Linked DNA regions of Homo sapiens: all the other regions are linked to region 3. The links come from fine-mapping of genetic effects on gene expression. A gene starts in region 3. Each other region holds a variant in brackets. All regions are shown on one strand. Distances are from middle to middle. Region 1 has its middle 25 kb from the start of EIF4H. Region 2 holds the start of MIR590 (microRNA 590). Region 3 holds the start of LAT2 (linker for activation of T cells family member 2).

Region 1 (8,182 bases), 61 kb before region 3:
GCTGGACTTCAGAGAAAGATTACCTTCCTGCTCTGTCCCCTTTTCAGCTCCCCTTCCCGCTTAGAGCCACTTTCATCAGCAATAAAGTCTCCTGCATTTACCATCTTCAATTCATTTGTGTGACCTAATTCCTCCTGGACACTGAAAAAGAACTTGGGTGCCACGAGTGTGGATGCAAAAGGCTGTCACACCGATCCTCCACTAAGCTGTTAACACTTAAGCCATTCACAGACAGCAGAGCTAAAAGAGTACTCTAACACTGCCTCTGGGGCTTCAATAGTCTCCGGCACCCTCCGCTAGACACTATCATGGGGCTGGTATGGAGATGGCTCTTGCTGGCGCCTAAAAACTCTCGCCCCGTCTCCTGCACCTGCTCACCTGTGCTCCCTCTCCTGTGAGGGGTGGAGTAGTGAGTGAGTGGAGTTCACCCCTACCAGCACCAAAGCAGCTGGCTAGTTCTTAGGCAACATCCTGCTTCACAATCACAGCTCACTGCAACCTCCCACCTCCCAGGCTCAAGTGTTCCTCCTGCCTCAGCCTCCCAAAGTGCTGGGATTGCAGGCATGAGCCACCATGCCCAGCCAGTCATTTTCTTTGGTTTACACTACTTTACCTCCCTGAGCCTTATTTTCCCCAAATGAGAGGTAGAAACTCCTCTGTTGGGAGGATTAAATGAGATATGTCTCAAATTTTTGTTGAAAACTGGACATTTTATTTTATCTTATTTTACTTATTTTTGAGACAAGGTCTCACTCACTCTGTCACTCAGGCTAGAGTGCAGTGGTGCAATCTTGGCTCCCTGAAAGCTTAACCTCCTGGGCTCAAGTGATCCTCCTGTCTCAGCCTCCTGAGCAGCTGGGACTATAGGCTCCAGCCACCACACTTGGCTAATTTATTTTTATTTTTATTTTTTGTAGAGACAGAGTCTCACTATGTTGCCTAGGATGGTCTGGAACTCCTGGGCTCAAGTGGTTCTCCTGACTCGGCCCCACAAAGTGCTGGCATTACAGGTGTGAGCCATGGCACCCAGCAAAAACTGGACATTTTAAATCATGTATTGTAATTCTAAATTCTGATGTCCTGGTGGTAGCTGTTGTAGATTTTGACATTGTTGTTGTTTGCTGGTTGTCTGTTTGGTTGTTTAATAACTTGAAGCCACTAAAGGAAGCCTCTGTTTTGTTTTGTGATTCTTGCTTTTATTTTCAAGACTGGCTTCCTAGGGGTCCATCTCTGAATCAGCATTGCTTAGTGCCCAGCCACTGTTTGGTCAGAAGGTTTCCGTAAACACCTTGACACACTAAGCCTTCCTTGGTCAAGAGGACCTGTGAGGGGGGTTGGGACACAGGTTAAATTATTTCCTCAAGGGCGTTGACATTTCTTTCTTTTTTCTTTTTTTTTTGAGATGGAGTCTGTCTCTATTACTCAGGCTGGAGTGCAGTAGCATGATCTTGGCTCACTGCAACCTCTACCTCCCAGGTTCAAGCGATTCTCCTGCCTCAGCCTCCCGAGTAGCTGGGATTACAGGCGCCCGCCACCACACCCAACTAATTTTTGTATTTTAGTAGAGATGGGGTTTCACCACCATGTTGGCCAGGCTGGTCTGGAACCCTCGACTTCAAGTGATCCACCTGCCTCAGCCTCCCAGAGTTTGGGATTACAGGTGTGAGCCACCACACCTGGCCTCTTTTTTTCTTTTCTTTTTTTTTTTTTTTTTGAGATGGAGTTTCGCTCTTGTTGCCCAGGCTGGAGGGCAATGGCATGATCTCGGCTCACTGCAACCTCTGGCTCCCGGGTACGAGCAATTCTCCTGCCTCAGCCTCCCAAGTAGCTGGGACTATAGACATGCGCCACACGCCTAATTGTTTGTATTTTTAGTAGAGATGGGGTTTCACCATGTTGACCAGGCAGGTCTCGAACTCCTGACCTCAGGAGATCTGCTCACCTCAGCCTCCCACAGGTATGAGCCACCATGCTCAGCTTTATTTTGTTTTATTTTATTTTATTTTATTTTATTTTATTTGAGACAGAGTCTCGCTCTGTCGCCCAGGCTGGAGTCCAGTGGAGCTATCTCGGCTCACTGCAACCTCTGCCTCTCAGGTTCAAGCAATTCTCATGTCTCAGTCTCTCAAGTAGCTGGGATTACAGGTGTGTGCCACCACGCCCAGATAATTTTTTTATTATTAGTTTTAGTAGAGTCGGGGTTTTGCCATGTTGCCCAGCCTGGTCTTGTACTCCTGACCTCAAGATATCCACCCGCCTCGGCCTCCCAAAGTGCTGGGATTATAGGCATGAGCCACCATACCCGGCCTCTTTTTTTAATTTTTATGGATATGTGGTAGGTATATGTATTTATGAGGTACATGAGATATTTTGATACAGGCATACAATGCATCATAATCACATCAGAGTAAATGGGGTATCCATCATCTCAAACATTTATCATTTCTTTGTTACAAACATTCCAATTATGCTCTTCTAGTTATTTTTAATTGCATAATAAATTATTGTTGACTGCCCAGGCACAGTGGCTCACGCCTGTAATCCCAGCACTTTGGGAGGCCGAGGCAGGTGGATTGCCTGAAGTCAGGAGTTCAAGACCAGCCTGAACAACATGGAGAAATCCCGTCTCTACTAAAAATACAAAATTAGCCAGGTGCAGTGGCGCATGCCTGTAATCCCAGCTACTTGGGAGGATGAGGTAGGAGAATCTCTTGAACCCAGGAGACAGAGGTTGCGGTGAGCCGAGATCGCACCATTGCATTCCAGCCTGGGCGACATTTTGTATGACATTGCTTAACCATAAACTCTTCATTTGCTTTTGTTTTTCTTTTCTTTTTTTTTGAGACGGAGTCTCGCTCTGTTGCCCACGGGTTCCACCGTGTTAGCCAGGATGGTCTCGATCTCTTGACCTTGTGATCCGCCAGCCTCGGCCTCCCAAAGTGCTGGGATTACAGGTATGAGCCACCACCCGCGGCCTGTTTTTCATTTTATTGTCTGAGAATCCCTTGCAGCCTGGGGGCATAGATTCGGGGAATTCTCCCACTCCTCACTTTCTTTTCTTCCTTAGGAATATCTTGGCCAGGTGCAGTGGCTTACACCTGAAATCCCAGAACTTTGGCAAGCTAAGGCAGGAGGAATGCTTGAGGTCAGGAGTTTGAGACCCGCCTGGGGAACAAAGTGAGATCCTATCTCTATTTAAAAAATAAGAATAATGGCCAGTCTTGGGGGATCACTCCTGTAATCCCAGAACTTTGGAAGGCAGAGGTGGGAGGATCACTTGAACCCACAAGGTTGAGGCTGCAGTGAGACGAGATTGTTCTGCCACACTCCAGCCTGGGTGGCAGAGTGAGACCCTGTCTCAAAACAACAACAACAATTAAAAAAAAAAAAAAAAGAATATCTTTATTTCTGACTTGGGGGCTTGCAGGTGGCTGAACTATTTCTGTGGAATGATCTGGAAACCCACACATATGTGAAGCCAGGTCAGGGCTTTGAATTCTTTGAATTATCAGGCTGAGGCAGGCAAGTTTGTCACTCCTCAAGGTAGATGAACTCATGATCTCCAGTCTACCCTTTCACAGACTGTGTGGCTTTTCAAGGATCACATTTCAAAGGGATCTCAGGCACAATTTCCATTTGAACTGGGTCCAGATACAATTTCCATTTGAACTGGACCTCAATGTAGTAGTCTCTCATTGTCTGAAGTATCACTCGGAGTTCTTTGTCTCACAACCATGAAAATTAAGGAGCATGGGCACCAAGGATGAGGCTGGAGTGAAAGTTTAATAAGCTAAAGAAGAAAGCTCTCTGCCGTGGAGAGGGGGTCTGAAAGAGGCCATTATTATTTATTTATTTATTTGAGACAGAGTTTCACTCTTGTTGCCCAGGCTGGAGTGCAATGGCATGATCTCGGCTCACCACAACCTCCACCTCCCGGGTTCAAGTGATTCTCCTGCCTCAGCCTCCTGAGTAGCTGGGATTATAGGCATGCACCACCACACCCAGTTAATGTTGTATTTTCAGTAGAGACGGGGTTTCTCCATGTTGGTCAGGCTAGTGTCGAACTCTCCTCAGGAGATCCACCCACCTCGGCCTCCCAAAGTACTGGGATTACAGGCATGAGCCACCGTGCCCAGCCAAAAGAGGCCATTTTTACAGTTGAATGCAAAAGCTTTTATAAGAAACCAATGAGGGCTGGGCATTTCATTTACATAAGGTGTGAATTTCTCCTATCTCCACCCCATCCTTCTAATGCGCATGGGGGCCCTTAGCTTAATTTACTCCATATTGCTTTAATTTTTTTTTAAATTAGCCATATTTTGCAAAAAAAAAAAAAAAAAGTGCATACATCCTATAATGTCCTATTTTATCTAGTAACTCTAGCCTAGGGCCTCATCTCCTGACCTGACACGGGCATTAAAGCAAGCTCCTGGCCACTGACCCTCAGTGACCATTCAGAGCAGAGACGTGATCAATTCATTGCCTATCATCTGTGGCGTTTAGTTTCCTCTTTGTTTCTGGATTCCTAGGATTTCCCTTTCTTTCATGGGAGCTCAACTGGGCATTGAAAATAATTTTTTTTAATTGTATTAAACATTTCAAAGAGTTTCAATAGGAAGGTTTTCTGGTTCTCCCTGCCTG[A/G]CAAATCAGAAACATATGGAGAGGTTTTTCAGTACATGTTTCATAGCCCTTCTTTCTCTGCCAAAATTCTGATATAGCCCCCTGGAGAACAACAAAATCTGGATGGAGTTTGGGCCAGAATTGGGGTGGGGTATAGATTGGCTCCTATGTGCTTGGAAAATAACTCACAACCCACTTTCCCAGTGTTGATTCAATTCTTTGTGTCTTAGACATTTTTTCTCATTTTGTTTTGTTTGAGACAGGGTCTCGCTCTGTCACCCAGGCTGGAGTACAGTGGCACAATCTTAGCTCACTGTAGTCTTGGCACCCCCGGGCTCAAGCCATCCTCCCGCCTCAGCCTCCCACATAGCTGGGACTACAGATGCGCACCACCATGCCTGGCTAAGTCTTTTTTTTTTTTTTTTTTTTTGAGACGGAGTCTCGCTCTGTCACCCAGGCTGGAGTGCAGTGGCGTGATCTCGGCTCACTGCAAGCTCCGCCTCCCAGGTTCACGCCATTCTCCTGCCTCAGCCTCCAGAGTAGCTGCTGGGACTACAGGTGCCCACTACCACACCCGACTAATTTTTTGTATTTTTAGTAGAGATGGGGTTTCACCATGTTGGCCAGGATGGTCTCGATCTCTTGACCTCGTGATCCACCCGCCTCGGCCTCCCAAAGTGCTGGGATTACAGGCGTGAGCCACCGCGCCCGGCCAATTTTTTGTATTTTTAGTACAGACAGGGTTTCACCATGTTAGCCAGGTTGGTCTTGATCTCCCGACCTTGTGATCCGCCCGTCTTGGCCTCCCAAAGTGCTGGGATTACAGGTGTGAGCCAGCACGCCCGGCCCTGGCTAAGTCTTAGACTTTTGTTTCCCCAACGTCTAACACAGTTTCATGGCCCATAGAAGATACTGAGTGCATGAATGAGGAATGCACGAATGACTCTTGGCAGACACTTCGTGGTCAGCATAAAAGAGGGAGAAAGCTGGCTGGGCAAAGTGGCTCACACCTGCAATCCCAGCACTTTGGGAGGCCGAGGCCAGTGGATCACGGGAGGCTGAGGCTGGTTCAAGACCAGCCTGGCCAACGTGGTGAAACCCATCTCTACTAAAAATACAAAAAATTAGTTGGGCGTGATGGCAGGCGCCTATAATCCCAGCTATTCAGGAGGCTGAAGCAGGAGAATCTCCTGAACCCAGGAGGCAGAGACTGCAGTGAGCTGAGATCGTGCCATTGCACTGCAGCCTGGGCAACAAGAGTGAAACTTCGTCTCAAAAAAAAAAAAAAAAAAGGGGGAGGGAGCGGATAAAGCTTATCTTGCATGTCTAATATATGATCAAACTAGATGGTACCCGATACAGCAGAGCACATAGTAATTGCTCGAGAAAGGTCATTATCCAGCAGAGCACAGTGGTTCATGCCTGTAATTCCAGCACTTTGGGAGGCTGAGGCAGGAGAATCATTTGAGGCCAGGAGTTCAAGACCAGCCTGGGCAACATTATGAGACCATCCCCCATCTCTACAGAAAAGTTTTTACAAATTAGCTGGGCATGGTGGGGTGTGCCTGTAGTCCCACCTACTTGGGAGGCTGAGGTGTGAGCATCACTTGAACCCAGGAATTTGACGCTGCAGTGAGCTGTGATTGCACTGCTGCACTCCAGCCTTGGTGGCAGAGTGAGACTCCAGATAAATAAATAAATGGAGGAGCTCACCACCATCCCCATGGGCTGAGCCAGGCTCGCACCACTGCACTCCAGCCTGGGCGACAGAGCGAGACCCTGTCTCAGAAAATAAAAAGAATTTTTTTTTTTTTTGAGACACAGTCTCGCTCTGTCGCCCAGGCTGGAGTGCAGCAGTGTGATCAGGGCTTACTGCAGCCTTGCACTTTTTGATGTTGTTGTTGTTCTTAGTTTCTTTGTTTGTGTTTAACGCTAAAAGATATTCTCCAGCAGAGAGCTGGTGCCATCAACAAGGAAAGAGAAAAAAGGAGAAGGGGCTCAAGTACTTGATACTTGATCACAGTCACGATATTCTCTAACAGAGAAGGCAGGGGCTTGATTTAAATAAGGCCGGGCACGGTGGCTCACGCCTATAATCCCAGCACGTTGGGAGGCTGAGGTGGGCAGATCACCTGAGGTCAGAAGTTCAAGACCAGCCTGGTCAACATGGCGAAACCCGTCTCTACTAAAAATACAAAAATTAGCCGGGCGTGGTGGTGGGCGCCTATAGTCCCAGCCATTCGGGAGGCTGAGGCAGGAGACTTGCTTGAACCCAGGAGGTGGAGGTTGCAGTGAGCCAAGATCGTGCCACTGCATTCCAGCCTGGGCAACAGAGTGAGACTCTGTCTCAAAAAAAAGAAAAAGAAAAAAAGAAAAAAATTTTAATACAAAAACAGCAATGACTGATTTTATGGAGAAGGCACTGGCCAGGAACAAATTCCCATTCCCACCCTTGAACCCTCCAAGAAGCTGGTGGTTGATAGCTTGTCGGTAGTGCTGCTGTCCTTTCTTCAGCCAGGGAGGGGTTCACAAAGTCGAGTGTGAGGCTGGAGCCCTCCTTACAGCTCTCATATTCCCTCTTACCAGCCCCTGTCCTCACATGGCTGCAATCTGCCCAAGCATCACACCCTTCCTTAGTGTCCGCAGAGAGCCTGCGGGGAACGGACAAGATCAACCCTGCCCCACAGGCACTCCCGATCTGTTTGGCAGGTCAAAAGGAAATCCATATGGCCCTTGAGAACTTGTTGAGGGACAATAGTTGTCACTGGGAAGGGGAATTGGATGGCCTGTTGCCCAGAGTATGCGGGAGACAAACTTTATACCATATACCCCTGGAAGGTTTTTGTTTTTTTTTTTTTTTTAGAGACAGAGACTCACTCTGTTGCCCAGGCTGGAGTGCAATGGTGCGATCTCGGCTCACTGCAACCTCCGCCTCCTGGGTGCAAGCGATTCTCCTGCCTCAGCCTCCTGAGTAGCTGGGATTACAGGCGCCCGCCACACCCATCTAATTTTTGTATTTTTAATGGAGATGGGGTTTCACCATGTTGGCCAGGCTGGTCTTGAACTCCTGACCTCAAGTGATCCCCCGGCCTCGGCCTCCCAAAGTGCTGGAATTATAGCTGTGAGCCACCGTGCCTGGCCTCATGGATAGTTTTTGAATCTTGCATATTGTGCAAGTAAACTTACTTTTTTTTTTTTTTTTTTTTTTTGAGATAGAGTCTTGCTCTATTGCCCAGGCTGGAGCGCAATGGCGCGATCTCGGCTCAGTGCAACCTCCACCTCCCGGGTTCAAGCGATTCTCCTGCCTCAGACTCCTGAACAGCTGGGACTACAGACGTGTGCCACCACACCCAGCTAATTTTTGTATTTTTAGTAGAGACGGGGTTTCACCAAGTTGGTCAGGCTAGTCTCAAACTCCTGACCTCGTGATCTGCCCGCCTTGGCCTCCTAAAGTGCTGGGATTACAGGCGTGAGCCACCGCACCCAGCTGTAAACTTACTTTTAAAAATAAAGGCTGGGCGCAGTGGCTCACACCTGTAATCCCAGCATTTTGGGAAGCCGA
Region 2 (8,182 bases), 22 kb before region 3:
GTAATTATTGAAAAGTCTAGAGTATTAAGCCACTGGTGGTTTTGTGAGGCACGAGTGAGTTGAACAGTTTGGTGGGCTTTGGTGTATCTTTGCTCCAGAATTATATCACCAGTTAGCTGTTAGGTGCTGCCATTTGGTAACGTGCCAACTTTTCAAAAATGGTTTGCCCCAAACTAGATTTTTCTATCTTCTCCAAAGCCAGAGCCACCTTCCTGTCCTAGTGCATTTTTAGCAGTGCCCCGTCATCTTACTGGCATTCACCTGGGCTTCCTGTGCTCAATCAGGGGTCAAGTCTGGCCTGATCTCAGTTCCACAGTTCCTCTACTCTGTAAGTTCGAGCACAATTAGCAAGCCTTCGCACCTCCATTTTCCTTACTTAGCAACTACATCAAACACCCGAGAGTTTATCATCTCTCTTCATCCTCACCCTCCTTTTTAGTTTTTATGTATATGTTACACATTCATACACACAAACATACCTGCATATATACATGTGTTTTATACGTCCCACACAACTGTGAGCTGCTTACATACAAGACAGTCTTTTAACATCATTACGCATCACTAGATGTTTAATGTTGAGTAATGAATTTAAACTGTTTTTAACATTGACCCTCCATTTTTATGGTTTTCCACATGTTTATACTGTATCTTGTTTTTTGTTTGTTTGGTTTTGTTGTTGTTTTTTGTGCTTTTTTGTTTGTTTTTTGTGTTTTTTTGTTTTTGTTTTTTTGAGATGGAGTCTCGCTCTGTAGCCCAGGCTGAAGCGCAGTGACACAGTCTCAGCTCACTGCAAGCTCCACCTCAGCCTCTGAAGTAGCTGGGATTACAAGTGTGTGCTACCACACCTGGCTAGTTTTTGTATTTTTAGTAGAGACGGAGTTTTACCATGTTGGCCAGGCTGGTCTTGAACTTCTGGCCTCAAGTGATCCACCCACCTTGACCTCCCGAAGTGCTGGGATTACAGGTATGAGCCACTGTGCCCCGCCTTTTTGTTGTTGTTGTTGTTTCTTCAGTTGGAGACAGTCTCCTTCTGTCACCCAGGCTGGAGTGCAGTGGTGCCATCACAGTTCACTGCAGCAACAACCTCCTGGGCTCAGGTGATCCTCCCACCTCAGCCTCCCAGGTAGCTTGGGACTACAAGTGTGGACCATCACTCCCGGCTAATTTTTTGTATTTTTTATAGAGATGGGGTCTTACTGTGTTGCCCAGGCTGGTCTTGAACTCCTGGCTTTAAGTGATCCTCCCGCCTCAGCCTCCCAAACTGTTGGGATTACAGGCATGAGCCACTGGGCCCGGCTTTATACTGTAACTCATATATTTATTATCCCGTCCTAAATAGTATCTTACTGAAAATATTTTAGGATTTATGATTTCGGAGATATCAGCGATAGAGTACTATTGGCAAAGGTTATTGAAATGCAAAGTAAGTCACATTTACTAGGCCCGAAAAGATGGGAGAAGTGGGCAGGTAGGATGCAATTCACTTGTAAACCTATTTTCTGGTGGTCTTAGAACAGAACGTGGAACTTCCTATTGGAAAGTACCGGAATTGTGAATTATGAAACTTAAAAGCTTTTTTTTTTTTAACCATCAAAGAATCATCACAGCTTGGTTGACCCTTCTACTTTAGAAAAATGCTTTAATGAATAATATTTGTCTGCAAGACACCTGGAATTTATCTTCAGGAAGAAGTGGAATTTCCATTGTGTTTCTGGCAGTATGTAGATGAAAGACCAGGTTGCTCTCTAAGATGGATATTAATATTTCCCCTGCAAAGAGGGTGACTTTGGGCAGGTCTTGGGTTGTTGTGAAGGATCTCATTTATTTGAACGCATTTCCCGTTTAGAAAAAAAAACTGCAGTTGGCTGCCAGCACGGTATTCTTGGAGCAAACAGGAAATGGGTTAAATGTCTGTTTCAAAAAAAAATCACCCCCTTAATTTTTTTTTCCTCCTGAGTTTTCCAAACGTTTTATTTTGGAAATTTTCAAATCTACAATAAGGTTGAAATAATGGTACAGTTGGATGACGCTAGTGGATGCAGAAGTGACTATTCTGCCTTGTTTGCTGAATCCTTGCTGTATACCGGCACACATGCCCTTTATGCTGACCTGCTTGAAAACAAATGTTGGCCATCTTGGCACTTCACTTCTAACGACTTTAAGTCGTTCCTGGGGCATTCTTATGGCAAATATCGTTTAATATAATAATCTATTTATACTATATTCTGATGTCTTTTTTTTTTTTTTGAGATGGACTCTCGCTCTGTCGCCCAGGCTGGAGTGCAATGGGCTCACTACAACCTCCACCTCCTGGGTTCAAGCGATTCTCCTGCCTCAGCCTGCCCAGCAGCTGGGATTACAGGCATGCACCACCACACCAAGCTAATTTTGTATTTTTAGTAGAGACAGGGTTTTACCACATTGGTCAGGCTGATCTTGAACTCCTGACCTCAAGTGATCCACCCACCTCGGCCTCCCAAAATGCTGTATTAGGATTAACTCAGTTTTACAAATAAAATAAAGCTTAGAGAAGTTGAATAACTTCTCAAGGTCATATGCTAGTAAGTGACAGAGGCTAGATTTAAACCAATACCTATGCAGAGTAAACGACGCTTGATACAGCTGAGGAGATGACATCGAGGTTGAAATGGATTGGTAATGCACGCCATACGCATGTATTTGAGGACCCTGTGAAGTATTGCACGAGAGTGTTAGGTACGTCAGTACTTGCTGTGTGACATCTAAAATTTTTATTAGGACATTCTTATGCCCATAATCAGGCAACAAGGAGAAATTTTTTTTTTTTTTTTTTTTTTTTTTTTTTTTTTTTTTTTTTTTTTTTTTTTGAGACGGAGTCTCTGTCGCGTGAGCTGAAGTGCAGTGGTGCGATCTTGGCTCACTGCAGCCTCCGCTTCCCAGGTTCAAGCGGTAGGAGAAATAATTCTATTATGTATGAATGTGTTAAACGTAAACAACTTCAGTAATCCTTCTTCTGAATACAACATTACTTCTAGACTGTCCATTTCTGTATTTCTTAGAACCACGGTGTGTGAAGGAGGGTACTTGCTTAGGTTTTAGGATGTAAATACTGCAGATACAGATTCTGAGTGAATAGGAGAGAAGCAGTTGTCTTAGGAAGGTGTGTTACGTTTGGGCTGGGCATGGTGGCTCACACCTGTAATCCCAGCACTTTGGGAGGGTGAGGCAGGCAGACCACCTGAGGTCAGAAGTTGGAGACCAGCCTGGCCAACATGGTGAAACCCTGTTTCTACTAAAAATGCACAAATTAGCCAGGTGTGGTGGCACATGCCTGTAATCTCAGCATCCTTAGGAGGCTGAGACAGGAGAATCTCTTGAACCCGGGAAGCAGAGGTTCCAGTGAGCCAAGATTGTGCCACTGCACTCCAGCCTGGGTGACAGAGTGACAGTCTGTCTCAAAAAATTTTTCTTTTCCTTTTTTTTTGTTTCTCCAGCCATTCTCTGTAACAGTCTTGTGGTACATCGAGCAGAGTGCCTCACCTGGGGCGCTGGCGGCGTAGCTCAG[C/T]GGAAGACCGCTTTACTTGTTTTGCTTATTCCACTCTGGGCACACTTGAATCCTGTTTGTCTCCCCTCCTAGGTCCCGCGGCAGTGCTGGTGGCCATGGTTCCCGTAGCCAGAAGGAGTTGCCCACAGAGCCCCCCTACACAGCATACGTAGGAAATCTACCTTTCAATACGGTTCAGGGCGACATAGATGCTATCTTTAAGGATCTCAGCATAAGGAGTGTACGGCTAGTCAGAGACAAAGACACAGATAAATTTAAAGGTGAGTTTGGGGGATTCTTATTGTATATTACTGTAAAGTGTAGGGGAGGATGGGAAGGGGTTCTAAATAAAAATAGATTTGTGAACCAGAGGCTGTAATCAAGAAAGTGTTTTAAACATTTGCCTGGTCTAAGTGGCCGAAAGAAACATAACTCTTCAACTCATAGGTCTTCAGTTCACTTAGGGGAAAATGTTTTGTACACAGTGTAGTTCATAGAAATACATGGCATATGCCCAGGTTTGTGAGCCTGACCTCTACAGCAGTCCTGTCTGCCAGTAAAGGAGTTCCCCAGGAGAGAGAGGAATAGAGCCGAGGACTCTTAGGCACATTCCTCCTGGAATGACTCGTAGATTTTCCTTGGTAGTTAATCCAGTAATCATATGGTACTGTCATCCAGTAATCATAAAACCCAGAAGAGAAGCAGCCAGTGCTGTCAGTATGCATTTGTAAATTTGGAGAGTGTGCTTGGGAGGGCTGGCTGAGATTTCAGATATGGTGTCTATAGGTCGTGTGTCTGCAGGGTGCGGGAGCAAAGAGCAGGAAGAAGAAGGGATCCGAGCAGCATTCTCCTGCCTGCAGGGCTTCCTGAAGGAAGTGTGCCTGCTGTGTAAGTGCACGATGCTAGGACCCAGGATGTTTGGCCCGCATAATCCACCCAAAAGCACATCTGTGACAAGTATGGGGTAACTTGGGGCGGGGAGCTGTGCCAGCAGTCGAGAAGGCCTTGCTGACCTGGGTGGTTTTGTGTGTCGGTGGCACTCTTACTCTTTTTGACTTCAGAATCTGAAGCCACATGTAGTGTGTAATCAAACAGTGAAAACAAATATATCAGTTACACTTGTGAAGTAAGCTCCAGGAAGCATTAGGAACTAAACTTTGGGTTGGAGTGTGTGGGTGAGCCTAGCCTTTGGGCTGGGTCAGTCGCTGCAGGCTTTGGAGTTTGGCTCATGAAGGACCATCTTCATTTGAGCAGCTCTAGAAGATGAGATTGGGTGTCTGTTGCTTCTGTGAAGTTGGGGGTAGTTTTCTCCATTATTCTCAACATTGAATCCACTTAGGGAGGAAACCTGGGGGGACATCCCTCCAGCCAAGGCAGTATGTTCTTAACACACAGTTGGTAAACAGGGAAAGTTTGGACTCAGGCCTTTAGAGCACTTGCGGTCTAGTGGGCTTCAAAGATGAAGTGTGATTATTAAGTTATTATACACAGGGCAAGGACGCTGGGGGAGAGGGGATGCAGGGTGTAGTGCCAGCATCTGGGGAGTAATGAACTAGATTTAGACTCCAGACAGCAAGGAAGGGGCAATGTCAGACCCCTGGCATCAGGGACACAGGTTGTCAGTAACAGGTACTTGGACCCAGGCTGCCTGTCTTTTAATTAACATTCAGAGAAGAATGCCCTGATTGCCAAGGATATATTTTCAGCTTTGTGAAGCAAATTTTATGTCAGTTACCTGAGTAGTAAGTTAAATCGGCACTTTAAGCCTCTTTCTTCAGAGCATTTTAGGTACCAAGTTTGAAATCTACGAAATCTAATCCTCACTTAGATTAAATAGTCATTCAGAAGTCAGAAGAGCTCTGCAGATGGCCTGAGAAAGGTTTGAATATTATGGTTAAAACATTCAAGAAGAAAGCTTTCTAGAAACGCAGCTGCTATTTCAGTGCATGTTCAGTTAGCATTTTCTGACTGATAAAATAGAATTGAGAGGGAGGAATGCCAGTCAGGGTTCTATCTATTGAAAGGCTCTCCTAGTCTGCCATCATCTAGACAACAGAATGGTAGTTGTGACGTGGAGAAGTAGTATGAATAGGATCTTCCCACATCTTTAACCCAGAATTACTTGAGGAAATCGGGGTCTTCTTTTCTTTTCCAGGATTCTGCTATGTAGAATTCGATGAAGTGGATTCCCTTAAGGAAGCCTTGACATACGATGGTGCAGTAAGTATCCTCGGGTTTTCTCTGTCATAGCAGTTGAGATTGTTTTCTTTGCCAATACTTACACTATTTTCCCTTTATCATTAGCTGTTGGGCGATCGGTCACTTCGTGTGGACATTGCAGAAGGCAGAAAACAAGATAAAGGTGGCTTTGGATTCAGAAAAGGTGGACCAGATGACAGAGGTGATTGGTTCTTCTAAAGCTGAACATCATAAAGATTTGCAGTATGCCTACCAATTCCAACTCGTGAACGTTCCTAGTAGAACTCGATTATCTCATAGGTGTGATAGGTTCTCGTGAGCTCTTAAAAGTTTGCGTAAAATCCTAGAAAGAATGGCTGATGCTTCTGCAAGCCTGGCGTTTTTTGTTTTCTGTTGGAAGCAAAAGCTCTTAAAATGATTTCATTGAACCTTCCATCACTTGAGTTGTATGTCTTCCAAATGAATTTTTCCATGTTTGCGCAGCAAGGTAATGACACGACCTCAACTTTATCTTTTTTGTGTATCCTCAGGAATGGGTAGCTCTCGAGAATCTAGAGGTGGATGGGATTCCCGGGATGACTTCAATTCTGGTATCAGTATTTAAAGTATCACCACTTAATTTTTCCTAGGAGCCTTGCTGCTGTTCTCTGTTTCTTACGAGTAGCCCGCCTGGCCGGACTACTTATTTAGTTCCTTTAACAAATACAACTCTCCTGCAGGGTGCCCAGGCATGCAAGTAAGCCTCTGTTAGAGCCTGTGGGGGCAGGACTTGAGCCCCATGCACCTTGTGTGGTCACCTTTGTTAGCCTGCAGCTCCTTGGATGTGTACGGGCCTGGGTCCTTGAGCTCGCTCAGCAGTCTTTCTCAGACTCTAGCCCAGGGAAACTCCTCTGTGGTTTTGTGTATGGCACCAAGAGAAGTACTGTTCCTTCTGGAAAACATAGGATAGAGGTTTGGGTTCTTACATGGTGAAAGGTAGTCCTGATGGCCCTTTTTTTTCTTGGAGGATTGTGGGGAGGTCCAGTCCCTTGATGGTGGACCTGATGCACTTCGCCGTTCTCTTTCTTAGCCAACCCAGGCAGAGCAGCTGGTGGTATAGCACAAAGCATCAGTCCACACGCCAGGCCTCTGCCCTGCAGGGTGATTTTAAGCATTTTTATCATCTTTACTTTCTGTTTTTAAATTACAAAAGTATAATTTTTTATATATGCACATGATAAAAACTTCAGTTGTAACCCAGAAAGGTAGGAAGAGAAAAACAAATTTGTTTTCTTTCCCGCAAACTTGGGATGTGCTGTCAATGCTGTGCTGTATAGAACGTCAGCACCCTCCCCCCATCAAAACAAAACCGGTGTAAAGTAGTGGGTGAGTATGGGAGGGACTGGTGCACGCTGTCTTGTGAGTCTGAGATTTTTAAAAACTCAGCTTTGGCTGAACAGGTGACGACTACCTGTTGAATAATATAGTTCTTAAAAGTCCTGTAGCCAGTCAGAAATGAGCTTATTCATAAAAGTGCAGTATGGTGAAGTCAATCTGTAATTTTATGTATAAGCTAGTCTCTGATTGAAACATGCAGCAGCTGTCTTCTTAGAGCCAACCAGCAGCTCAGGGAACGGCCTTTCCCCTGCCAGTTTGGTATTCGCAGGTGTTATAGAAGTTGCCCACATACTAACGTCTTTCTACCCTTGGCTTAGCTTGGCCACTGGCGCTCAAGCAGAGACACAGTGAACACGGCCATGGCCTGGCCGCCACCAGTTCTGGTGGGAACTGCAGTGTTTTGGTGACATCTCAAACCCTATGTGGGCTCACTCGATGGAGTAATGGCTAATTTGATACTTTATACGTTATTTGCGAGAGTAGATCTTTTTTACTTTTTAATAGGATGGTGCTATTTTTTTTAATGATACCTGCTCATGTAAAAAACAAAATAGAGCAACAGAAAAGTACCAAGAAAGCAAAAACATTTCATCATCAGAAATAGCCAGTGTTAAACTAAGCTTTGTAAAGAAAACTCTGAAGATTCTCATGAATAGTTTGCTTCCTAGAAACCCACCAACAGATTTTTTGTTGTTGTTTTTTTTGAGACGGAGTCTTGCTCTGTTGCCCAGGCTGGAGTGCAGTGGTGCGATCTCGGCTCACTGCAAGCTCTGCCTCCTGGGTTCATGCCATTCTCCTGCCTCAGCCTCCCAAGTAGCTGGGACTACAGGCACCCACCACCACGCCCGGCTAATTTTTTGTATTTTTAGCAGAGACGGGGTTTCATCATGTTAGCCAGGATGGTCTCGATCTCCTGACCTCGTGATCCACCTGCCTCGGCCTCCCAAAGTGCTGGGATTACAGGCATGAGCCACCGCGCCCGGCCCCCACCAACAGATTTGATGAGAGATCCTTGTTCATCTGCTTCACCAGCGTGGTGTGAGCTATTTGTTTCACGCTAGACATTGGTGGTCGAAATCA
Region 3 (8,182 bases):
AAAAAATGAGAAAAAAAGAAAGAAAAAGAACAGCAGGTAAGTCCTGTCCAGGTGCATAGTCTGGGGCTGGAGGGAAACAGATGCAGGTTTGTTCCCATTGTGTGAGGAGGAGCCAGTCAGGGGGTCCCAGCAAGGAAGCCAGGCTTTGGCCTCTGGGTTCAAATCCAGCTTCACCTCTGTGAGCCTCTGTCTTCTTACCGGTTACCGTGGGAAGGAAACGTGGTCCTGAATCCAGTGCACTTGGCATTGCTGGATGGAACAAGGGAGGGTGGCGGTTGCTCGCACAGGCACAGGTCTGGGCGTCTGATGGCCCTAGCTTCAGTCCTAGTCCGGCCACAGAGGGAGGCAGGGTGAGCTCCTGACACGGACGCCTGCAGAATCTCTCAGAACCGGTCTCTGGAGCATGTGCTACCCTCCTTGTCCACGAGGTGGCAGCAGCGGGCCTAGCCGCTCGTCTCCGCGGCCACCTCTTTCTGGCCAGGCCGGGACACCGCGGCCAAGGCTAAAAGAGAAACCTAGCCCCAAGCTGAGAGTGGGACCCCAGAGCCAGGGTCCCAGGCCTAGAGGCGTCCAGGACTGGGGGCCAAGGTTCTGAAATGCCAGACATATAGGAGGTGGGGGACCGTCATGCTCTTCCCTGGTGTCTCCAGCAGGTGGGATAAACACCGGGTTCAATGGGACCAGGCGCGGTGGCCTCACGCCTGTAATCCCTGCACTTTGGGAGGCTGAGGATGGAGGATCGCTTAAGGCCAGGAGTTCAAGACCAGCCTGGGCAACATAGTGAGACCTTGTCTCTACAAAAAAAAAAAAATACAAAAATTAGCTGGGCGTGGTGGCATGCACCTGGGGTTCCAGCTAACTCTGGAGGCTGAGGTGGGAGGATCGTTTGAGCCTGGGAGGCAGAGGTTGCAGTGAGCTGAGATTGCACCACTGCACTCCAGCCTGAGTGACCGGGTGAGACCCCATCTCAAAAAAAATTTTAAAAAAGGGGAAAGAACAGCAGGTAACCTCTATCCAGGTGCACAGTCTGGGGCTGAAGGGAAACTGTTGCAGGCTTGTTCCCATTGTGTGAGGAGGAGCCAGTCAGGGGGTCCCAGTGAGGAAGCCAGGCTTTGGGGTCTGGGTTCAAATTCAGCTTCACCTCTGGACCGAGTGAGACCCTGTCTCAAAAAAAAAAAAAAAAAGCAGGCGAGGAATAGAGACAGAGGGTCAGACAGCAAGAGTCCCAGAGGATGAGACAGATGGACACAGAGACAAAGGATGCGGGATGTAGGTGGGCAGGGCAGGGACAGAGAGACCCCTGCAGAGGCCACGAGGGCAGGGCAGATGGAACAAGTGACCAAAGACAGGTGGAGGAGTGGACGGCACGAGTGTCAGAGGCTGCAGACAGCGAGGGCGCTAAAGGGTGGGAGAAGGAAGGAGAGCCCTGCTCCACCCCAGCCTTGGGGGTCTCATCACCCCACTGCACAGATGAGGCTCCTGGCATCGGGGTGCAGAGAACGGCTCATAGCACAGGCAGAGGGACCACAGCCCACTCCTGCCCAGCGGTGCTCCTGTGCCCAGCCCTGGGGTGGACACCGTGGCTGCCATCCACACAGACATGAGGACCGAGTGAGATAGTTCCCTGTGGAGGCCAGGATGCTCTGGCACCTGAGGTCAATAAAGCCACATCCCACAAGTGGGTGGACTGCCTTGTGCTATTGACCATTAAACAGCTGCCCAAGGCCATTGAGCTATTAATTAAATAATAATTATTATTATTTTAAATTTTTTTGTTGTGTTTTTTGGGTTTTTTTGTTTTTGTTTTGTTTTTTTGAGATGGAGTCTCGCTCTGTTGTCCAGGCTGTAGTGCAGTGGCACGATCTTGGCTCACTGCAAACTCCGCCTTCTGGGCTCAAGTGATTCTCCTGCCTCAGCCTCCCAAGTAGCTGGGATTACAGGCACCCACCATCACACCCGGCAAATTTTTGTATTTTTAGTAGAGATGGGGTTTCACCATTTTGGCCAGGCTGGTCTCAAACTCCCGACCTAAATAAGGTGATCCACCTGCCTTGGCCTCCCAAAGTGCTGGGATTACAGATGTGAGCCACCACGCCCGGCCTATTTATTGTTTTTACAGACAGACAGGGTCTTGCTGTCCCCCAGGCTGGAGTGCAGTGGCAGAGTCACGGCTCACTGCAGCCTCCAACTCTTGGGCTCAAGAAATCCTCCCGTTTTGGCCTCCCAAAACACTGGGACTACAGGTGTGTGCCACCACACCCAGCTAATTAAAAAAATTTTTTTAGAGATGGGGTCTCGTTCTGTTGTCCAGGCTGGTCTCAAATTCCTGTTCTCAAGCGATCCTCCTGCCTCAGCCTCCAAAAATGTTAGGATTGCAGGTGCAAGCCACTGCACCTGGCCTCTATCTCCCTGTTTCTTGCTCTCTCCCCATCTGTGTGTGTCTCTGACAGTCTGTGGCTCTCTGTATCTTTCTGTGTGTCTCTCTGTGTGTGTCTTGGTCCATCTCATGCCCAGCTAATTTTTAAATTTTTTGTAGAGATGGGGTTTCACCATGTTGGCCAGGCTGGTCTTGAACTCCAGACCTCAGGTGATTCTCCTGCTTCAGCCTCCCAAAGTGTTGGGATTACAGGCATGAGCCACCGTGCCTGGCCCATGGGTATGAATTTCTGCCTGTGTGTGTCTTCTTCTTTTTTTTTTTTTTTTTGAGATGAAGTCTTGCTCTGTCACCCAGGCTGGAGTGCAGTGGCGCTATCTTGGCTCACTGCAACCTCCACCTCCTGGGTTCAAGCAATTCTCCTGCCTCAGCCTCCCGAGTAGCTGGGATTACAGGCACCCGCCACCACACCCAGATAATTTTTGTATTTTTGGTAGATATGGGGTTTCACCATGTTGGTCAGGCTGGTTTTGAACCCCTGACTTCATGACCTGCCTGCCTTGGCCTCCCAAAGTGCTGGGATTACAGGCATGAGCCACCGCGCCCGGCCCATGGGTGTGAATTTCTGCCTGTGTGTGTCTTTTTAGCGTATGTGTGTCTCCATATCTGCCATCTGCAGGAGCACCTCAGTTTCATTATCTTGCTCCCTGTCTATTGGAGTGTATCTCTCTTCCTCTCTGTGTGACTTTTTGTGTTTATGTGTGTGTTTAGTGTGTGTCCATATTTTCCTGTTCTCTTGTGTCTCTCTGCTGTGTCTCTCTCTTTTTCTTTCTGTTTTTTGAGACGGAGTCTCCCTCTGTCACCCAGGCTGGAGTGCAGTGGTGCGATCTCGGCTCACTGCAACCTCTGCTTCTGAGGTTCAAACGATTCTCCTGCCTCAGCCTCCCGAGTAGCTGGAATTACAGACACATGCCACCATGCCCAGCTAATTTTGTATTTTTAATAGAGACGGGGTTTCACCATGTTGGCCAGGCTGGTCTTAAACTCTTGACCTTACGTGATCCACCCGCCTCGGCCTCCCAAAGTTTTTGGATTACAGGTGTGAGCCACCTCGCCCGGTCCTATCTCTCTTTCTTCTCTTTCTCCCTCTCACTTTGTTTCTCTTCTCTCTCTCTCTCCCGCCTCCTTCCCCCGTCTCCCCTCCCTTCCCCCCACCGCCCTCTTCATAGCTGAGCCTGTCCGGCAGTGCGGCGGATGTACGGATGATTCAGTGGCTGGCAGGAAGCCCGCCCTGCCCGCCCGCCAGTGTCAGTGGTGTTGGCATCAGCTTGGGCAGGTGTGCGGGCTCAGGATGGGGCGGCCGTGGTGAGGAACCCTGGACTCTCAGGTAAGCCTTTCCCAGGGGTGCCTCAGTCCTCAGGCTGTCCCCCATCCCCCAGGAGCTCCTGGCCCCACTGGGTGGGGTGGGAAGAGGCCTGGATGCCTGGCGCCCCCTCCCGCAGCCCCACTCTCACCCTGGCACCAGGCTCTGTGGCACTTCAGGGGTCAGTTTGTTTCTGGGCTTCTGGCCACTCTCTTGCCCTCGCCTTCCCCTGTCCAGCCTGTGTAGCCTTGGGACATCCCAGGGTGGTCCCATCATTGCCAGAGACTGGTGAAGTAAGTGGCCGAGAGCCAAAACAGTGGCTGCCCTGGCCTGGGAGCCTCGGTTTCCTCATCCGTGAAATGGGACTGTAACCCCCTACACAGGTCAGGGGAAAACGGTGGGATTACAGGCCAGGGCCCAGGTCTTGCCCCAGGTCAGGTGAAGAACCCCCACTGCCTCCCTGCCCAGCCCCCTACCTGGCCCTCAACTCTGTCCCTGGGACCAGGGCTGCTCAGGCCCCTCCTGCACCCGCCCGCCTCCCTCTCTCCCTCCCAGCTAGGCTCATTTGAAGCCCAGAGTTATTTGGAAAAAGCAACAGGACCAGCCGGGCACGGTGGCTCAACCTGTAATCCCAGCATTTGGGGAGGCCAAGGCGGGAGGATCATTTGAAGTCAGGAGCTGGAGACCAGCCTGAGCAACATAGTGAGACTCCCATCTCTTTAAAAAATAAAAATAAAAAAATATAATTAAAAACTAAATGAAAAAACCAACAGACCCCAGAGCAGAGTCCAGTGGATAAAGCCATCCAGGGCTTCAAGCCAGGCTGCCCCCTCCCCAACCCCAGTGTCCCCAACCACAGCTCAGCTCGGAGAAGGCTGGGAGAACCGGCAGGGTGGTCTCGAGCGTCCTTCCAGGCGGGATTCAGACACTGTAGCTCCTCCAGCCCAGCCCCGAGAACTTCCCCGAAGCCAGCTCTTGGCAATCGTTGTTCATATGAAAACTGCCCACTTCCCTTTAGTGCTATTTTGGCCTCTGCAGAACCGTGGTCTGTGGCAGCCCCCACTCCCCACCCCGCCCAGCCCTGCCGGCCCCTGGGGGCCTCAGAGGGTCCACCCTCCGCTCCCTCCACCTCAGCCCACCTGCTTTCAGAACCTGGATGGGAGAGTGAAAGTGAGAGCGAGACAGAGACACAAAGGGAGACAGAGACAGAGAGAGAGCACAGAATTTTTTTAAACGGAGTCTCACTCTGTTGTCCAGGCTGGAGTGCAGTGGCGTGATCTCGGCTCACTGCAACCTCCACCTCCCAGGTTCAAGCAGTTCTCCTGCCTTACCCTTCCAAGTAGCTGGGGACTACAGGCACGTGCTACCACACCTGGCTAATTTTTTATTTTTTATTTATTTTTTATTTTTTGGAGACAGTCTTGCTCTGTCTCCCAGGCTGGGAGTGCAGTGGTGCAATCTTGGCTCACTGCAAGCTCCACCTCCCGGGTACATGCCATTCTCCTGCCTCAGCCTCCCGAGTAGCTGAGACTAGAGGCGCCTGCCACCACGACCGGCTAATTTTTTGTATTTTTAGTAGAGACGGGGTTTCGCCATGTTAGCCAGGATGGTCTCAATCTCCTGACTTTGTGATCTGCCTGCCTCGGCCTCCCAAAGTGCTGGGATTACAGGTGTGAGCCACCGTGCCTGGCCTAATTTTTTATTTTTAGTAGAGACAGGGTTTCACCATGTTGGCCAGGCTGGTCTTGAACTCCTGACCTCAGATGATTTGCCCGCCTCAGCCTCCCAAAGTGTTGGGATTACAGGTGTGAACTACCGCACCCGGCCAACAGCGCAGGATGTATTCAGTCTGGGGGCAGACACATGACTGTTTGTTAAATTTCATTTTTTGTTTTTAGAGATGGGGTCTTGCTCTGTCACCCAGGCTGGAGTTCAGTGGTGTGATCTTGGCTCACTGCAGCTTCCAACTCCTGGGCTCAAGCAATTCTCTTGCCTCAGTGTCCCAAGTAGCTGGAACCACAGGCATGTGCCACTGCGCCTGCCTAATTTTTTCATTTTTTTGTAGAGACAGGGCCTTGTTACATCGTCCATGCTGGTCTCGAACTCCTGGCCTCAAGCGATCCTCCTGTCTCGGCCTCCCAGTGTTGAGATTACAGGCGTCAGCCACCACGCCCAGCCTGATCCCATTTTATTTATTCATTTATTTAATTTATTATTATTATTATTATTATTTTGAGATGGAGTCTCACTCTGTCTCCCATGCTGGAGTGCACTGGCGTGATCTCAGCTCACTGCAACTCACTGCCTCCTGAGTTCAAGTGATTCTCATGCCTCAGCCTCCCAAGTAGCTGGAATTACAGGCTTGCACCTCCACGCCTGGCTAATTTTTGTATTTCTAGTAGAAACAGGGTTTCACCATGTTGGCCAAGCTGGTCTCAAACTCAAGTGATCCTCCTGTCTCAGCCTCCCAAAGTATTGGGATTACAGGTGTGAGTCCCTGTACCCAGCCCGACCTCATTTTATAGATGAGAAAACTGAGGCGGGGGGCTCTCAGGCAGAGGCTAGATTTGGTCCCATGAGCCCTCCTGCAAGACAAGTTGCTCCAACCTCACAAGCCTGAGATGAACTTGGGCCATGCTGGAGGGGTTGGGGGTACACCCCGGGTTGGGGGCACTGAGGCAAGGAGAGTTTCGAGGAGGGAGAAGGGCAGTGCCCAGGCGGGCCATGGGGAAGAGAGAGCAGAGCTTTCCTCGGACAACCTCCCGGGGTGACGTGGGTCGTGCCAGTCACACGGCTCAGAAATTCACTTGTTCCCACTGACTCACTTGGCTTTTGGGGAGAGGCCTGGTGGCTTCTCTGTGATGCGCCTCTTACAGAGGCTCAGGGCCGCATGGAGATTCCCTGTCATCTTACCGCAGGGATTTGGGAAGTCCAGAGAGGTCCTGAGACTTGTCCAAAGCCACACAGCTTTCAAGGGGGACAGCCCAGGTCCTGGTGGACCTCAGGGGGATCCCAAGGCAGGAGGTAGGCAGCCTGGAGCTCCTCCATTATTATTATTATTATTATTGAGATAGAGTTTCGCTCTTGTTGCCCAGGCTGGATGGAGTGCAGTGGCGTGATCTCAGCTCACTGCAACCTCCACCTCCTTGGTTCAAGCAATTCTCTGCCTCAGCCTCCTGAGTAGCTGGGATTACAGGCGCCCACCACCACACCTGGCTAATTTTTTGTATTCTTTTTTAGTAGACACAGGGTTTCACCATCTTGGCCAGGCTGGTCTTGAACTCCTGACCTCATGAACCACCCGCCTCAGCCTCCCAAAGTGTTGGGATTACAGGCATGAGCCACTGTGCCCGGCCATTTTTTTTTTTTTTTTTTTTTGAGATGGAGTCTCGCTCTGTTGCCCAGGCTGGAGTGCAGTGGCATGATCTCGGCCCACTGCAACCTCCACCTCCTAGGTTCAAGTGATTCTCTTGCCTCAGACTCCTGATTAGCTGGGATCACAGGCGTGTGCCACCACACCCGGCTAATTTTTGTATTTTTAGTAGAGATGGGGTTTCACCATGTTGGTCAGGCTAGTCTCGAACTCCCGACCTCGTGATCTGCCCGCCTTGGCCTCCCAAAGTGCTGGGATTACAGGCGTGAGCCACCACGCCCTGCTGGAGCTCCTCCCTTTTAAGTCCTGTTTACTGCTCCAAGCCTCACCTTCCCCAGCTGTGGGATGGGGAGAAGCCCTCCTCACTGGTGGCCAGGGTGGGAAGAACACGGCGGGTGGGGGAGAGTGGACACTCGGGAGTGTTGGCTCCACAAATGCCCACCATACTCAACCCCTTCAGAGACCCCACCACCCTCAACTCTGTCCCCAGCCATCTCCAGGGGGCCAGGTCTCCTTATTATTATTTTTTGAAACGGAGTCTCACTCTGTTGCCCAGGCTGGAGTGCAGTAGCATGATCACAGCTCACTGCAGCCATATATATGTATATATATATATATATGAAAAAATATATATAAATATATATATATGAAAAAATATATATAAATATATATATGAAAATATATATATAAATATATATATGAAAATATATATAAATATATATATGAAAATATATATATGAAAATATATATAAATATATATATGAAAATATATATGAAAATATATATATGAAAATATATATGAAAATATATATATAAATATATATATATGAAAATATATATATAAATATATATATGAAAATATATATATAAATATATATATGAAAATATATATATAAATATATATATATGAAAATATATATATAAATATATATATATGAAAATATATATATAAATATATATATATGAAAATATATATATAAATATATATATATGAAAATATATATATAAATATATATATGAAAATATATATATAAATATATATATATGAAAATATATATATAAATATATATAT

Evidence for each region. PIP is the estimated chance that this variant, and not a neighbour inherited with it, causes the effect.
Region 1: its variant is the best candidate, but not a certain one, in a credible set for the expression of LAT2 in whole blood (INTERVAL, PIP 0.68).
Region 2: its variant is the best candidate, but not a certain one, in a credible set for the expression of LAT2 in blood mononuclear cells (TOPMed, PIP 0.56).

Annotation. Positions count from the first base shown.
Region 1 is chr7:74,145,085-74,153,266 of GRCh38, forward strand. No RefSeq gene overlaps it. Among named protein-coding and RNA genes, the nearest start is that of EIF4H, 25 kb to the right of the region's middle. The variant A/G (reference allele first, on the strand shown) is at 4,642.
Region 2 is chr7:74,183,992-74,192,173 of GRCh38, forward strand. EIF4H (eukaryotic translation initiation factor 4H) reads left to right here. Exons shown (of 7, transcript NM_022170.2): 2 at 3,620-3,807; 3 at 5,682-5,746; 4 at 5,831-5,927; 5 at 6,256-6,315. MIR590 (microRNA 590) reads left to right here and starts at 7,207; the gene lies at 7,207-7,303. The variant C/T (reference allele first, on the strand shown) is at 3,548.
Region 3 is chr7:74,206,328-74,214,509 of GRCh38, forward strand. LAT2 (linker for activation of T cells family member 2) reads left to right here and starts at 3,679. Exons shown (of 14, transcript NM_032464.3): 1 at 3,679-3,761. RefSeq lists enhancers at 3,163-3,272, 4,493-4,612, 6,483-6,562, 6,693-6,752 and silencers at 3,553-3,602, 4,713-4,802.